Linked DNA regions of Homo sapiens: all the other regions are reported to be linked to region 2. Evidence: microRNA targets listed by miRTarBase, many of them from high-throughput screens and not tested one by one. Region 2 holds a microRNA gene; each other region holds the end of a gene's coding sequence. Distances are from middle to middle.
Evidence for each region. The annotated mature microRNA hsa-miR-331-3p reads GCCCCUGGGCCUAUCCUAGAA and lies in region 2 at 3,337-3,357, shown strand. An mRNA with a match to its seed (bases 2 to 7 or 8) in the 3' UTR can be bound and repressed. Matches are read on the target gene's strand: a 7mer-m8 pairs with bases 2 to 8, a 7mer-A1 pairs with bases 2 to 7 and ends in A, and an 8mer does both.

Region 1: the mRNA of GAPDH is a reported target of hsa-miR-331-3p. The part of its 3' UTR that is shown has no 7-base or 8-base seed match.
Region 3: miRTarBase lists PLCH2 as a target of hsa-miR-331-3p. The part of its 3' UTR that is shown has no 7-base or 8-base seed match.

The regions. Positions count from the first base shown.
Region 1 is chr12:6,537,886-6,542,950 of GRCh38, forward strand. GAPDH (glyceraldehyde-3-phosphate dehydrogenase) reads left to right here. Exons shown (of 9, transcript NM_002046.7): 8 at 1-111; 9 at 216-486. The coding sequence ends at 285. IFFO1 (intermediate filament family orphan 1) reads right to left here. Exons shown (of 10, transcript NM_001193457.2): 9 at 3,627-3,757; 10 at 1,654-2,703. The coding sequence ends at 2,598. Among named protein-coding and RNA genes, the nearest start is that of GAPDH, 5.9 kb to the left of the region's middle. RefSeq lists enhancers at 1,685-1,894, 2,675-2,824, 2,855-2,994.
Region 2 is chr12:95,305,144-95,310,215 of GRCh38, forward strand. It overlaps MIR331 (microRNA 331), which reads left to right and starts at 3,277; the gene lies at 3,277-3,370. MIR3685 (microRNA 3685) reads left to right here and starts at 4,780; the gene lies at 4,780-4,841.
Region 3 is chr1:2,504,229-2,509,293 of GRCh38, forward strand. It overlaps PLCH2 (phospholipase C eta 2), which reads left to right. Exons shown (of 22, transcript NM_014638.4): 22 at 1-1,304. The coding sequence ends at 985. It overlaps PANK4 (pantothenate kinase 4 (inactive)), which reads right to left. Exons shown (of 19, transcript NM_018216.4): 19 at 4,309-4,832. The coding sequence ends at 4,619. Among named protein-coding and RNA genes, the nearest start is that of PANK4, 20 kb to the right of the region's middle.

The DNA.
Region 1 (5,065 bases), 89 Mb from region 2:
CACTGAGCACCAGGTGGTCTCCTCTGACTTCAACAGCGACACCCACTCCTCCACCTTTGACGCTGGGGCTGGCATTGCCCTCAACGACCACTTTGTCAAGCTCATTTCCTGGTATGTGGCTGGGGCCAGAGACTGGCTCTTAAAAAGTGCAGGGTCTGGCGCCCTCTGGTGGCTGGCTCAGAAAAAGGGCCCTGACAACTCTTTTCATCTTCTAGGTATGACAACGAATTTGGCTACAGCAACAGGGTGGTGGACCTCATGGCCCACATGGCCTCCAAGGAGTAAGACCCCTGGACCACCAGCCCCAGCAAGAGCACAAGAGGAAGAGAGAGACCCTCACTGCTGGGGAGTCCCTGCCACACTCAGTCCCCCACCACACTGAATCTCCCCTCCTCACAGTTGCCATGTAGACCCCTTGAAGAGGGGAGGGGCCTAGGGAGCCGCACCTTGTCATGTACCATCAATAAAGTACCCTGTGCTCAACCAGTTACTTGTCCTGTCTTATTCTAGGGTCTGGGGCAGAGGGGAGGGAAGCTGGGCTTGTGTCAAGGTGAGACATTCTTGCTGGGGAGGGACCTGGTATGTTCTCCTCAGACTGAGGGTAGGGCCTCCAAACAGCCTTGCTTGCTTCGAGAACCATTTGCTTCCCGCTCAGACGTCTTGAGTGCTACAGGAAGCTGGCACCACTACTTCAGAGAACAAGGCCTTTTCCTCTCCTCGCTCCAGTCCTAGGCTATCTGCTGTTGGCCAAACATGGAAGAAGCTATTCTGTGGGCAGCCCCAGGGAGGCTGACAGGTGGAGGAAGTCAGGGCTCGCACTGGGCTCTGACGCTGACTGGTTAGTGGAGCTCAGCCTGGAGCTGAGCTGCAGCGGGCAATTCCAGCTTGGCCTCCGCAGCTGTGAGGTCTTGAGCACGTGCTCTATTGCTTTCTGTGCCCTCGTGTCTTATCTGAGGACATCGTGGCCAGCCCCTAAGGTCTTCAAGCAGGATTCATCTAGGTAAACCAAGTACCTAAAACCATGCCCAAGGCGGTAAGGACTATATAATGTTTAAAAATCGGTAAAAATGCCCACCTCGCATAGTTTTGAGGAAGATGAACTGAGATGTGTCAGGGTGACTTATTTCCATCATCGTCCTTAGGGGAACTTGGGTAGGGGCAAGGCGTGTAGCTGGGACCTAGGTCCAGACCCCTGGCTCTGCCACTGAACGGCTCAGTTGCTTTGGGCAGTTACTCCCGGGCCTCACTTTGCACGTGTGCTTACCTAGTGGAGACAAAAGTACATACCTCGGTAGAGCGCGCACGCCTGTAACCCCAGCACTTTGGGAGGCCAAGGTGGGTGTATCACCTGAGGTCAGGAGTTTGAGACCAGCCTGGCCAACATGGTGAAACTCCGTCTCTACTAAAATTACAAAAATCAGCCAGGCTTCATGGCACATGCCTATAGTCCCAGCTACAGGCATGCTGAAGCAGGAGAATCGCTTGCACCCCGGAGGCAGAGGCTGCAGTGAGCTGAGACCACACCACTGCACTCCAGCCTAGGCAACAGAGTATGAGACTCCATCTCAAAAAAAAAAAAAGTACCTACCTCAGAGTTCAAACTAGTGAATATTAGGAAGTGCTTGAGACAGTGACACCAAAGTGCACAATAAATACTCGCCAGTTTCATTATTATTAAAGAATCCATTTGAATGTCAGCTCAACACAGCCTCCTATACCGAGGCATTGTGAACCGCATCTCCCCAGCTTCTCCAGGCTTTTCCAAGAATCAGGGACACTGTAGCCTGTTGGTCTCAGTGTATGACAGACACGGAGGAAGCACATCTTTAGCTGATACTTAAACAGAGACCCTGAGCGCACATACACCCGCGCACACATGCATGGAGCTTCACCTTCTCTGTCATTCTGCAGTGACCAGGAGAGCAAGAGCTCCCACCTCCCTTCAAAACACTGTGCCCATCCCGGGCACTAAGGCCTCTTTAAAGCACGGCACCTCCACGAGGGAGGGCCACAGCCACATACACTCCACCTGGCAGGTGGACAGCGTGAGCACGTGGACCATAGCAGGGACAAGGTGCCCCGGCCAGCCCCAACGCCCTCTGCCGCTGACAGGGACAGAAGCCCTCTCCAGCTGCGTGTGCTGCAGAGGCCATGCGTAGCCTCCAGCTGCATTCTATTCCACTCCAGTGCCTGGGCCAGTTAGCACCAGTGTGGAAGACAGTGAGCTGGCTCCGGACAACAGGGATGGAGGAAAGGTCCCACATTCACATTCCTGATACGTGGACAAGGTGAGGGGCCGCAATCGCTCTGGCAGCATTTTAAAGATGGGGAAGTAGCAGACACCCACGCGTGAAGGCAGGAGAGCCCCAACTGTGGTGGAAATGGCCCCAGAATGGTAGGGCCAAGCCTAGCTCCAGACACCCCAGAGCCCTGGAGAAGCCAAGACTGAGGGAGAAAGCCTGAGGGAGGAGCGCCCCAGTCCCCAGGGACCGGCCTGGTGCAGAGCTGCAGCTGATGTTCCCCTCTGTGCAGCCCCACCCTCTGCCTCGCTGAGCTCCCTGCTGCGAGGGCCTCGGGTGCAAGGGGGAGGCAGGTCTCTATCTCATGGAGCTGTCAGATGAGACATCGCGATCGGAGTCCTCAGCCTCGCTTGGCGGCGGCGGCGGGTCGCTAAGCGGGACCGCAGTGAAAGCAGGAGACTTTCTAGAAAAAAACACCAGTTGTCAACCTTGGGGCAGGCAGGAATCCTGAAGACGGACGGCACTCCTCCTCCTGCTGCCTCACCCTCTGGCAGCCCGTGAGAAGTACCGGAAGCGAGGGCGGGGCCGCGGGATGGCGAGGGAGCGGCAGGGACTGAACTCTCTCCAAACCCACCCTGACAGGGAAATGGGCCCCGCCTGTGTCTTGGGAACTCAGAGGCTGAGGTCAGGCATGATGGCTCACGCCTGTAATTCCAGCACTTTGGGAGGCAGAGGCGGGTGGATCACGACGTCAGGAGTTCAAGGCAAGCCTGGCCAACATGGTGAAACCCCATCTCTACTAAAAATGCAAAAATTAGCCAGGTGTGGTGGCGGGCGCCTTGGAGGCTGAGGCAAGATAATCACTTGAACCTGGGAGGCGGAGGTTGTAGTGAGCCAAAAAAAAAAAAAAAAGAAATAGCTGAAGTCACAGTAGGAGAGAAGCTGCTGAGCCTCCAGCACCCTGACTCTAGGGCCTTGGCTTTATGTCTATCTGCAGTATTTTTGTGATTTTTAAAAATTCACTTTCTTGTTGCGGTGTAACTTACACAGGGTCAAATGCACAAATCATGGCCCTGACTTTAGATAAAAATCTGCCCCCACAACCCTTCTGTTCCTTGCCAGTTTTTAAACTGCCTCTAACCAGGGGAACCACCAGAGCTGGTGGCCTTGGGAGGTTTCAGCCCTCCCGTCATGAATGGACATAGCTCATCCAACTGCCAAGGGAGAGAGCTGTGGGTCTGGGCCAGCCCCACCAGGTAACTCCCAAAGGGCAGCCCCACAGCAAGATGTGACCCAGTCATTGCCTGAGGGTCTCTGGGGCTGTGTTCCAACCTTTCTCCCCGCTGTGTCCCCCTGGAAGGCCCCATGCCCAGGGGAGGCGCCTACCGGTCTCCAGACTGGGTGATGAGCCGGCGGCAGGTCTCCATCTGCACGTCCAGGCCGCGCTTCATGCTGCACATCTCCATGTACTCGTGCAGGTGCCGGTTCATGTCGTTCTTGGCCGTGGCCAACTCCAGCTGTGGTGGGGCAGGCAGGGCCATCGGGGTTAACAGGTGGCGTTCACAGCGCCTCTGTTGCCCCCGCCAGGAGGCCAACACGCCAAGAGCAGTGGCTGGGCCGGGGGCCCAGGCAGCCATTACTGAAGGCTCAGATTTTAAAATAAACCAGACCAAGGCAGAAGGCAGCGAATACACCATTGTTTCCTCTGCTTTTCCTGGAAATCTTTGCCTATGGAGGAATGCAAAGGTACTGCTGCAGGCTGTGTTCTTTTAAGACTGATAAGAGTGGTGAGGAAAGTCAGTGTGGGCGGGATGGAGCAGATCCACAGGCTCCCAGGGCCACACAGGTTCCTATGGGGCCCGGCTCACCCCTCATCCCCTGTACTGCGCTGGTCCTGGGCTGTCCCCTCACTGCACTGTGAGCTCCCGTAAGGGTTAGCGACAGGTTTTCCTCATCCTGGCAGACCCAGACCTCGAAGGGAATTAACTCTCTCTGTGACCCGTGGCATACAAGCCTGGCTAACTGCTGAAAGGGGCCCAATCCTCTTACCATTCTCTCCTTATCACTTTATTTTCTCACCTAAAAGCCATTTTCAGACACTAAAAGGAAGACTCCCATATTGGAGGTGCCATTGATTCTGAGACCTGTCCTGATTTCAGAAATGTCACACGTGGAAAACACGGGGCTCAGAATCAAAGAAATCCGGTCTCCCTCCCCGGGCCCATTCTGCAGCCCACACTCTGAGGCAGGCGGAGAGGCAGGGCCCAGGCAGCACAAACTCAGTGCCAGGGACAGTCGACTGCCTCTCTTTGTTTTGGGTACAAAGGGCAGGGGCCGCAAGGGGAAGCAAAATGAAACTTCCTGGAGATGACGTTCGTGACTGCCTGAGTGAAGAGAACGGGGAGGATACCAGCTGCCATAATGTGGATTGGACAGAGAGGGTGGGAACTTAGAGAAAGAAGGAAACAGGTTACAGGGCCAGACAGCAGAGATGGTCAGGACAGTGACATTTGGGGTGAGATGGCGGCTGGCTGGGTGAGAAGCCCTAGTGGGGACAGCTTCCCTGGCAGGCTTGGATCCACAGCTGGGGCCCCACAGTAGTGGGAGGAGCAGGACACGGTGACTGTTCAACCCAGGGGGAAAATACAGTGCCACCAGCCCTTGTTCAGATCAGCTGCCTACACCCCAATTTCTCCACCTTGGAAGAACCGGAGTGCAGGGAGCTGGGTTCTGGAACCATCACTCAGGGAGACTGGGAAGAAGGAAATGAACCAAATATATTCTACTGAAATACAAGGCTAGTACTGCCACCAGTAGTCTCTGCA
Region 2 (5,072 bases):
CAGTCGTTCTGATTCTTCCATTTCTATTACTGCTTGCTTAAGTGTGCCTGTAGCAGTAGCCCTTCTCCACCTTCATAATGTGCCTTCTGATCTGCTTTCATTTTGGAGACCAGACAAACTAAGTTTATTAGACTTCTGTGTAAAGTAAGAATAAATAAACTCAAAGTGAAGACTTGAGGAAGTGGATTATGCTTAAATGCATGGATTTTGTGACATCTGTTACTTTACTACCTGTTTCATTGCTATCGTTAAAATAAGTGAAGCTACCGAATTAGATACCTGCTCTCAAAATAGAAAAGTTGTTATGGTACAAAAGGAACTATTTTGTTTACATACTTTACTTTCTCTAAAGTTAGTTCTATACTAGAATTATTTGGCGCTGATTAAAACTGGTCCACTCAAGTTAGCATTTTCTATAGTATTTTCTATTTGAATTGGAGACTACATGCTGTTAAGAATTTCTTTGGCTTTTTTTTTGTTGTTGTTTTGTTTTGTTTGAGACAGAGTCTCACTCTGTTGCCGAGGCTGGAGTGCAGTGGTGCAATCTCGGCTCACTGCAAGGTCCGCCTCCCAAGTTCACGCCATTCTTCTGCCTCAGCCTCCGGAGTAGCTGGGACTACAGGCGCCCGCCACCACTCCGGCTATTTTTTTGTATTTTTAGTAGAGATGGGTTTTCACCGTGTTAGCCAGGATGGTCTCGATCTCCTGACCTTGTGATCTGCCGTCCTTGGCCTCCCAAAGTGCTGGGATTACAGGCATGAGCCACAGCGCCCAGCCGGCTTTTTTTTTTTTTTTTTTTTTTTTTTTAAGAGAGAAATGTATCTTCATTTCCAAGACATGAAAATAGATTAAGCCCTGAAAAATAAGAAAACATTCACTATTAATGTCACAGAGACCTGAGAAGTAATAAAATTTATAGACTATAGGCAATTATACCACAAAGAATTTATTTTTTGATTATGCTAGTTTTAAAAACAGGGTCTTTATTTTTATTCAGCTATAGTAAGCGGACGTTAAAAGCTTACCAAAAGTTATCAGTGTTAGATCTAATGATATTGGCAGATATTTGAATGACTAAATTCCCACTGTCATTCTGTACTGGGCATGATTAAATTGTAATTTAATATTTAATAATTAAGCAGGATCACTTTTCTCTCTTGAATGAAAAATAAAATTTGCACACTATAATATTTACAAGTAAAAGTCAAATCTGTATAGAAATGGATATCCTAGCATCAAACAACTTATTTTTAGCAACATGCTGATTATTTTAGTAACCATATATTGACTCATGTTTTCATTACAAAGTAACTGTCAAATCAGTCTGTTTATTTTATGACCATGCCTCATAGTCGGCATTCAGTTATCCATGCTAATGGAAGGGATCTGTGGTATAATAATCATAAAAGATAAGTGGTCCAGGCTGGGCGCGGTGGCTCACGCCTGTAATCCCAGCACTTTGGGAGGCCGAGGCAGGTGGATCACGAGGTCAGGAGTTCGAGACCAGCCTGACCAACATGGTGAAACCCCGTCTCTACTAAAAATACAAAAATTAGCCGGGCGTGGTGGTGGTACCTGCCTATAATTCTAGCTACTCAGTAGGCTGAGGCAGGAGAATCACTTGAACCCGGGAGGCGGAGGTTACAGTGAGCCGAGATTGCGCCATTGCACTCCAGCCTGGGTGACAGAGTAAGACTTCATCTCAAAAAAAAAAAAAAAAGATAGGTGGTCCAAACCAGTTTCTTGAGTTGAGACTGCCATTATAGAAGAGATAGTCAAGATACCAAAGCCAGGTCAGTGATAAAAGAAGAAAACTTCTGAGTGTAGTTGTGAGAGGAAAGTGATTCTATTCAGTGTAATTGCTGTAAACCAAAAAGAGGATTAATTGATTCAAGGATTCACACATGTAAAAGTTTAGCATGAATAAGGAGGAACTGATTTTATAGATATTCTAAAATGTGTGATAAGCTAGGACGTAGTGGCTCACACCTACAATCCTAGCACTTTGAGAGGCTGAGGCAGGAGGATCTCTTGAGGCCAGGAGTTCAAGACCAGCTTAGGCAAGAAACAGCAAGACTTGGTCTCTACAGAAAAACTTAAAAATTAGCTGGATGTGGTGGCACACACCTGTAGTCCCAGCTGCTCAGTAGGCTGAGGCAGGAGGATCACTTGAGCCCAGGAGGCCACAGCTGCAGTGAGCCATGATTGCACCACTGCACTCCAGCCTGGGCAACAGAACGAGAGACCTTGTCTCAAAAATAAATAAATGAAAATGGGCTGGGCGTGGTGGTTCACACCTGTAATCCCAGCAGTTTGGGAGGCCCAGGTGGGCGGATCACCTGAGGTCGGGAGTTCAAGAACCGCCTGACCAACATGGAGAAACCCCGTCTCTACTAAAAATACAAAATTAGCCGGATATGGTGGTTCATGCCTGTAATCCCAGCTACTCAGGAGGCTGAGGCAGGAGAATCGCTTGAACCTGGGAGTCGGAGGTTTTGGTGAGCCGAGATTGTGCCAATGCACTCCAGCCTGGGCAACAAGAGTGAAACTCTGTCTCAAAAAAAAAAAAAAAAAAAAAAAGAAGGAAAATGAAATGTGTGATAAATTAAAGTGCATATAGTATTTTTTATGGTATATATTTTAATGTATTTTAGCTTGTCAGCAATGAAATTAGTTTTATCTCTATGTATTGAACTTCATTTAGCAACATATTATTGCAATAGTACAGTATTTAAGCTGCATATTCTCTTGACTGCATTATCCTTTAAAATCAGTATATTCTGTGAGATATGGCTATGGATATATATATTTCCTCTCCTATTTATATCCTAAGATTTTCTTAAAGGATAATTTTACTGTTTTAGGCTTTATGTTTTTCAGTTTTATATCATTTCCTAAAGCTTAGCTACCTACAAATGAATATTATTGAAGAATTTTTCTAAAACTAAAGCATGTCTTTTATAAGTTTACTCTTTTATAATATCCTAAACAAAGCATATCCTTTTCCCCTTCCTTAAGTAAATTCTTAAGGAAATTAACTTCATTTCTAAATCAAAGTATTTTCTGCACTTTTATTGCACCAATCTGTTACCTTCTGTTCATACCATGACTTAAATAATGCTTACTCAGGCACAGTACTATCAGCTGACAACGTACAGAAGGCTCCAGAAATGTCACTCCCATCCCTTAAAGGTTGGTATATGGTCCTGGTACAGTCGTGGAGGTCCATATGGGTGAAAAGCCCAGAAGTCTACCTGAGCTGAAAGCACTCCCAAGGAGTTTGGTTTTGTTTGGGTTTGTTCTAGGTATGGTCCCAGGGATCCCAGATCAAACCAGGCCCCTGGGCCTATCCTAGAACCAACCTAAGCTCGCGCATCATTCCTGGAACATCAAGAGTGTGAAGACTGAAGATAACCTGAGGCCTACCAGACATCCTATATTCACCAAGATTCACATTTTTTGGTATGTGTGCCTACATTTTAGCAAAAATTGGTTGGTTAATCCTTCTAAAATTAGAGGGATGACATTGGGTAACAAAGTCTTCCCAGCCTTTGGCATTATAGTAATTTCTCGCAATAGAAATTCCATACAGATATTATTGCCAGTGAAGAGAGCTATTCTTGTTTATTATCAGTTCTATATTTTTAGCTGAAGCAACTTAGCCCTAAAAAACCCCAAAATCAACTTCTTCCTCCAAATTAAACTCTCCCCCAAATTTAATGGTTTCTGTTTTCTTAAATGTTTTTCTACTTGACACTGTTATGTCAGTCTCATGTAACTGAATAATTGTTCATAATTTCTGAAGAGCATTTAGTCTTTGCCATCTGGCTTCAGTGCCAAATGATTTTCAATTCTTGTTTTTGGAGACTAATGACTTTTTCCTTAATTTATTATCAAATTTGCCACATTTTAGAGCTCACTTTTAGAAGTTCTGCTATGGTTAATGAAAACAAGCTAGAATGACACAGTAGAAATTGGTTAATACGTCACATTTTACATCACTATTTTGTAGAAGATTTTTAGTAAGTTTCTCTATTTTTATTCCTTGCCACTCTGGATTTTACAAATATTCTGACCTAGTTGATCCATCACATGGTCTCATATCACAACTGTTGCATCGCTATATTCACATAGATGTTTTTCTGTTTAATTTAGAAGACAGTATTTCTGAAAAAGTATGAAACGACCCCAAATCCAAAAGTTATGGTGCACAATGAAAATGTATGCTTTTAATAATGCTGGCTTCTGCAGTAGGTGTAGACCATGTTTCAAATAACCACAGACTAATCAGAAACTCCACCTGTGAAAGGAACTTGAAATTGTGCTATTCCTCCAAGCTTATAACACCAGCAAATTGGGTCAATAGGTTATTCCTTTAAAATAGGACTATGAGCCTACAGAGGCTCACTCTGAAGAACTCAGCCGTGGAGTTAGTTCTGTACTATATCCATCACAACAGACATGCTTCATCCCATAGACTTCTTGACATAGCTTGAAATGAGTGAACCCATCCTTGATTTATATACATATATGTTCTCAGTATTTTGGGAGCCTTTCCACTTTTTTAAACCTTGTTCATTATGAACACTGAAAATAGGAATTTGTGAAGAGTTAAAAAGTTATAGCTTGTTTACGTAGTAAGTTTTTGAAGTCTACATTCAATCCAGACACTTAGTTGAGTGTTAAACTGTGATTTTTAAAAAATATCATTTGAGAATATTCTTTCAGAGGTATTTTCATTTTTACTTTTTGATTAATTGTGTTTTATATATTAGGGTAGTACATTTCCTACCCTACCTGAAGACTTGAGATTATAGTCTTTGGGGGGATGGGCAAAGTACTCTCTTTTTTTGCATCTTTTAAATTGTGATTTTTAAAAACACATATAAATTTTACTATCTTAACCATTTTTATGTGTATAGTTCAATGAGATTAAGTCCAGTCACATTGGTGTGAAACAGATCTTCAGAATTTTTTCATCTTGCAAATCTGGGACTCTATACCCATTAAACAACTCCCATTTTCCCCTTCCCCACAGCCTTGGCAACCATCATTCTACTTTTCTCTATGAA
Region 3 (5,065 bases), not on the chromosome of region 2:
CGTGATTAGAAGGGTGAAGAGTGAGGGGCAGGTGCCCACGGAGCCCCTGGGAGGGTGGCGGCCCCTGGCCGCTCCCTTTCCAGCTCCTGCCGTGTACTCCGATGCCACGGGCAGTGACCCGCTGTGGCAGCGGCTGGAGCCATGTGGCCACCGAGACAGCGTTTCCTCCTCCTCCAGCATGTCATCCAGCGACACTGTCATTGACCTCTCCCTGCCCAGCCTGGGCCTGGGCCGCAGCCGTGAGAACCTCGCTGGAGCCCACATGGGACGCCTGCCCCCCAGGCCCCACTCGGCTTCGGCTGCCCGCCCAGACCTGCCACCTGTGACCAAGAGCAAATCCAACCCCAACCTTCGGGCTACAGGCCAGCGGCCTCCCATACCTGACGAACTGCAGCCCAGGTCCCTGGCCCCAAGGATGGCTGGCCTCCCCTTCCGGCCTCCCTGGGGCTGCCTTTCCCTGGTGGGCGTGCAGGACTGCCCCGTGGCTGCCAAGTCCAAGAGCCTGGGCGACCTCACTGCTGATGACTTTGCCCCTAGCTTTGAGGGCGGCTCCCGCAGACTGAGCCACAGCCTGGGCCTCCCGGGAGGGACACGGCGGGTGTCGGGGCCAGGGGTGAGACGGGACACCCTGACAGAGCAGCTGCGCTGGCTCACTGTCTTCCAGCAGGCAGGAGACATCACGTCACCCACCAGCCTGGGCCCGGCTGGGGAGGGGGTGGCAGGGGGCCCTGGTTTTGTGCGGCGCTCCTCCTCCCGCAGCCACAGCCGCGTGCGTGCCATTGCCAGCCGGGCCCGCCAGGCCCAGGAGCGGCAGCAGAGACTGCAGGGCCTGGGCCGGCAGGGACCCCCAGAAGAGGAGCGGGGCACCCCCGAGGGCGCCTGCTCCGTGGGCCACGAGGGCAGTGTGGATGCACCAGCACCCTCCAAGGGAGCCCTCGGGCCAGCATCCGCGGCTGCTGAAAACCTGGTCCTGCTCCGCCTCTGACCGTCAGTGGTGGGAACCTGGGCGGCTCTGGAGGCCCAGGGCAGGGGTGGGCGTGTTGTTTGCTCAGGAAACAGGGCAGCCAGGCCCCCAAAACTGTGTCCCCCTGGCTGCCCTGTGTCCCCTCCACCCCTGCCTCCCTCCTGCCCCTGCTCCCGGGGAGGAAAGGCTAAAGCTGCTGGCCCGGGGCCCACAGGAGGGGCTTCGAGGCTGGCCCTGCCAGGCAGTTTTCCCGGCGTTTTAGGATCTGTACATAGAGAAATATTTAAATTTTTAGAAGCAAAACTTATACAACATTAAAATGATACCAAGTCCCTTTCCATTTTTACCTGGTTTTTCACCCCAGGTGTGTGTGGTGTGCATCTGTGCGCACCTGTCCTGAGCCTGCCCCGGGAGGCGCGGCTGACCTGGCCACGGCACAGGCGGGGGTGCTTGTGAGGCACCAGGGCTGCTCAGGACGGCCGTCTGGGCCTTGCCCTGAAGCCTGTATCTGCCTTGCACCGACCACGCCACCCTCTGCACCATGCCTAAGCCTCTGTCAACTCCCAAACGTGGTTCTGATAAACGTGCTCACCAGCACGCATGGGCTTCCCGTTCGCTCAGCCTCCTGTGCCACTTACTTACCAGGTGCCCGTCGGAGCCTGCGCCAGGCCCAGAAGACACCCCAAGAAAAGACCTGGCCTGTCCTCAGAGGGCTGAGCTGGACAGGCTCCCAGGGTAGGCTGCAAAGCCTGCTCCTCAGGACGCAGGCCCTAACCCCGGGCCACAGGCCCCCCAACCCGGGGGACTGCTCTGCCTGCAGAGCATGGTGGTTCCAGAAAGGCCCCTACCCTAGAGAAGCTGGGGTGCTGGTCGGGCCTCTGGAAGCCTGTGCTGCAGCCCGTCCTCTGCTGCCCCAACAGTGGGAGTGGGTGTGGCCCACCCTGTGGCCAGGGGAGTCAGGGGATGTCCTGCCCCATGAGGCTCTGTCACCTGCGGCTGCCCAAGGGGCCTGCCCGGCGCACCACCCGGATGAGCACTGCTCTGTCGGGGTATCCCGTCTCACCCCTGGCTGCGTTGTGCCCAGGCAGGGCCCTTGGGAAGGCGGGCCTGAGGCCCGGAGGCCGGGATCCTGGGGTGCTGGGGGAGCTCTAAGGGGGCTGTTCTGCCCTCACCATGTTCCTGCACTGACAGGGATTGTGGGCGGCCACAGGAATCGCTGTCACCACTTCCCCAGCTCAGCCAGGCAGAGGGGCCACTGGTGCCGCCCTTCCCCCAGCCCCACCACGCCCCTCAGAGAGAGCCTGGCAGGACTTCGTCATCCTCGAGCCCCAGAACACTTGCGTGTGGGCAGCTGCAGCCCCACCGAGAGCAGGGGTGTGGTGAGCTGGTTGCCTGGGGCCCGGGGCGGCACCTGAACCTGAGGAGTCTCAGCTCTGGGACAGGGGACTCACAGAGCCCCCGGCAGTGACACTGACAGCAGCCTGGTGACCGAGGCCTCCTGGCGAGCCCCCAAGTGGTGCCGTGGGCAGGGCAGAGGTTGGGGAGCCAGCTGGGGGTCTGCGGGAGTCAAGGAGGGGCTGAGGGCCTGGGGCCAGCTCGTGTTTTGAGGAAAGCGCCGTTGAAATGGCCACATCAAGGGAACAAGGCAGAGGCCAGAGCCCTCCTGCTCCAGCTCCGGCTTCGGCGGGAAAGGGCTGGGGAAGGGCTGGGAAAGGGCTGGGGAAGGGCTGGGGTCACAGAGGCTGGGGTTGCCCGGAGGCACAGGGGTGCCTGGCTCATAGGCTGGGTGGCCCCTTGTGCAAGAGGGGAGCTGAGGCCGTGGCCACCGGCAGGCCCTGCATGGGGGTGTGCAGGGGCTGAGCCTGGGCTAGGCCCTGGTGTCTTTGTCCTGGCTCTGTCCTTCCAGGCCTCTGTGCATCCCCCACCTCCTCCTCGGCATCCTGTCTGGGCCAGGCTCAGGCCAAACCTCTGTAGTGGGTGCGTCCCCAGCACAGATGGACTCTCCAACCCCGGGGTCAAGCCCTGTGGGTGTCAGGCCAGGCAGTCACACATCCGGGTGCCCAGAGCGGCCAGGCCACTGCTGCCACCCACCACCAGTGAGGGTGGGGCCAGGATGGGAGCAAGAGCTGGAGGGGCCGAGTGGGGTCAGGGAAGGCTACAGAGATGCAGGCTGGGAGGGCTTCCCCATCAGAGAGCCGGGCCTGAGGAGAGGGCCGGAAAGTGGTGAGGGCCCATGGGGTTCCGGGGGCTGGGCCTCTGCCCTGGGGACCCACAGGAGGGAGAAGCTGGAGCCAGGGGGACAGTCCACCTCAGGATAGCCCAGCTGCCCCCGGGCTCCTCTGCCAGGACACGAGACCCTTTGGTGGCCGCTGCACGAGGGCTGGGACTCAGGTTCCACGCAGACTCCAAGGGCAGGTCACGAAGAGACACCACAGTGGGGGCCAGAAATGGCCACTGGGCACCTCTGGGCAGGCCAGGTCTCCATGAGGGAGGGGTCTTAGCCTCTGCAGGTTCCAGACCACCAAGCAAAGCTGTCTGGAAGGTGATCCATGCCACCCCACCTCCTTGGCCTAGGACAGCCTGTGCTTGGGGGTCTCAGTGAAGCCTCTGGATGTGGGGGACCCCAGCGGGGGTGGGGGTGGTGGGGCAAGGTAGCAGCTCAGCCTCCTCAGGGCCTGCCCAGCAGCTCAGCACCAGGAACAGCTCCCACCACATGAAGTCAAAGCTGGGGGCCTGCAGCCAGCCCACCCCAGCAGGGCCTCCGCAAGCCCTGTGCCCTCCTGCCCTCTCTACGATGCTATGTGTGGTCTCAATCCCACACCTGGGCTGAGGGGGAGGACCCCCAGGCGCCTCAGAGCTCCCAGGGGCCAGGCCCAGCGGGCCTCCCTGCTGCCAGCTCCCCCCAGCCATGCCCACCCTAGCCACAGAACACGGCCCCAGGGAGCCTGGTCCCAAGGCCATAGCAACCAAACCCACGCGGTCCACACAGTTCCTAGCAGGGTCCACGTCGGCCCCTGGCTGCCTGAGAGCCCTTGAGGGTGATCGATGTCGAGGGCTCCTTTCCCAGGCTCTCGAGTCAGGAATTGCTGCTCAGCACCCACACATCCCGCAGGTGCAGGGGGAGGGCGCTGGAGGGACGAGGGTGGCTGAGTTGGTTCTTCTGGCCCGGAGGGAGCGGTGAGAGACGCAGGGGCCCGGGGCCATGGGGTCTGCGGGGCGGCTGGCACTCGTTGCCTACAAGGTCTAGAAGCAGCGCAGGGAAGGGCTCCCGCTCTGGGCTCCCCCCATGGGAGGAGTCGGGAGGGGCCCCTGCTCCGAAATAAAACATCGCAGATGGCTCCGGCCTCTTTTAAAAACTCTATTTGGTGCGTGCCCACGGTGCTGCGTCCCGTCAGACATACCTGTATAGATCTCTCTATTTATATATATATATATATAAAAGGTTCTTTAGCAGTTAAATAGATTCCAATATGAACGTCTCCCAGGACAAAGCTGCGTCTCGCCTCTGGGTCACACGCATCTGTGCGGCTGGGGTGTATGTGCCGCGTCACAGCAGTACCATATAAATACGTTGATTTGAACGCAGTTTCCCTGTGGTGGTAAAAACACATTCCTGACAAGTGACAAGCAGAAGAGTCCGGCAGCTGCAGCGCCTCACTCGGCTGGGACCTCGTACTTGAAGATGACGCTGAAGAGCCGGCCGCCCAGCCGCTCGGCCAGCCACGCGTTCTTGATGACGGCCAGCTTGAGGCTCTCGCAGCGCAGGGCTGCGTGGTAGTTTGTGTGGACAGCACGGCCCATGCCCTCGATGACCACCAGATCCGCGCCACGCTCCCGCACCAGTGCGGCCAGCCCCTTATCCAGGCGGCTTTGGGGAGGAAGAGGACGGTGAGACTGGGCAAGCAGACCCCAGACCCCACTTCCCATACAGTGCGGCGACCAACGTGAAGGCTGAAACCCCTACCGCTCAATTCCCTGATGTGGAGGCCTCCAAACCCAGCCTCCGCCTGGTAGCTGCCTCAGCCTGGGGCTTCCTCAGAGCAGCAGCTCACACAGGGCCAGAGCAGCTGCAGCTTGGAAACTCTGCCCTAGATCTCCTGT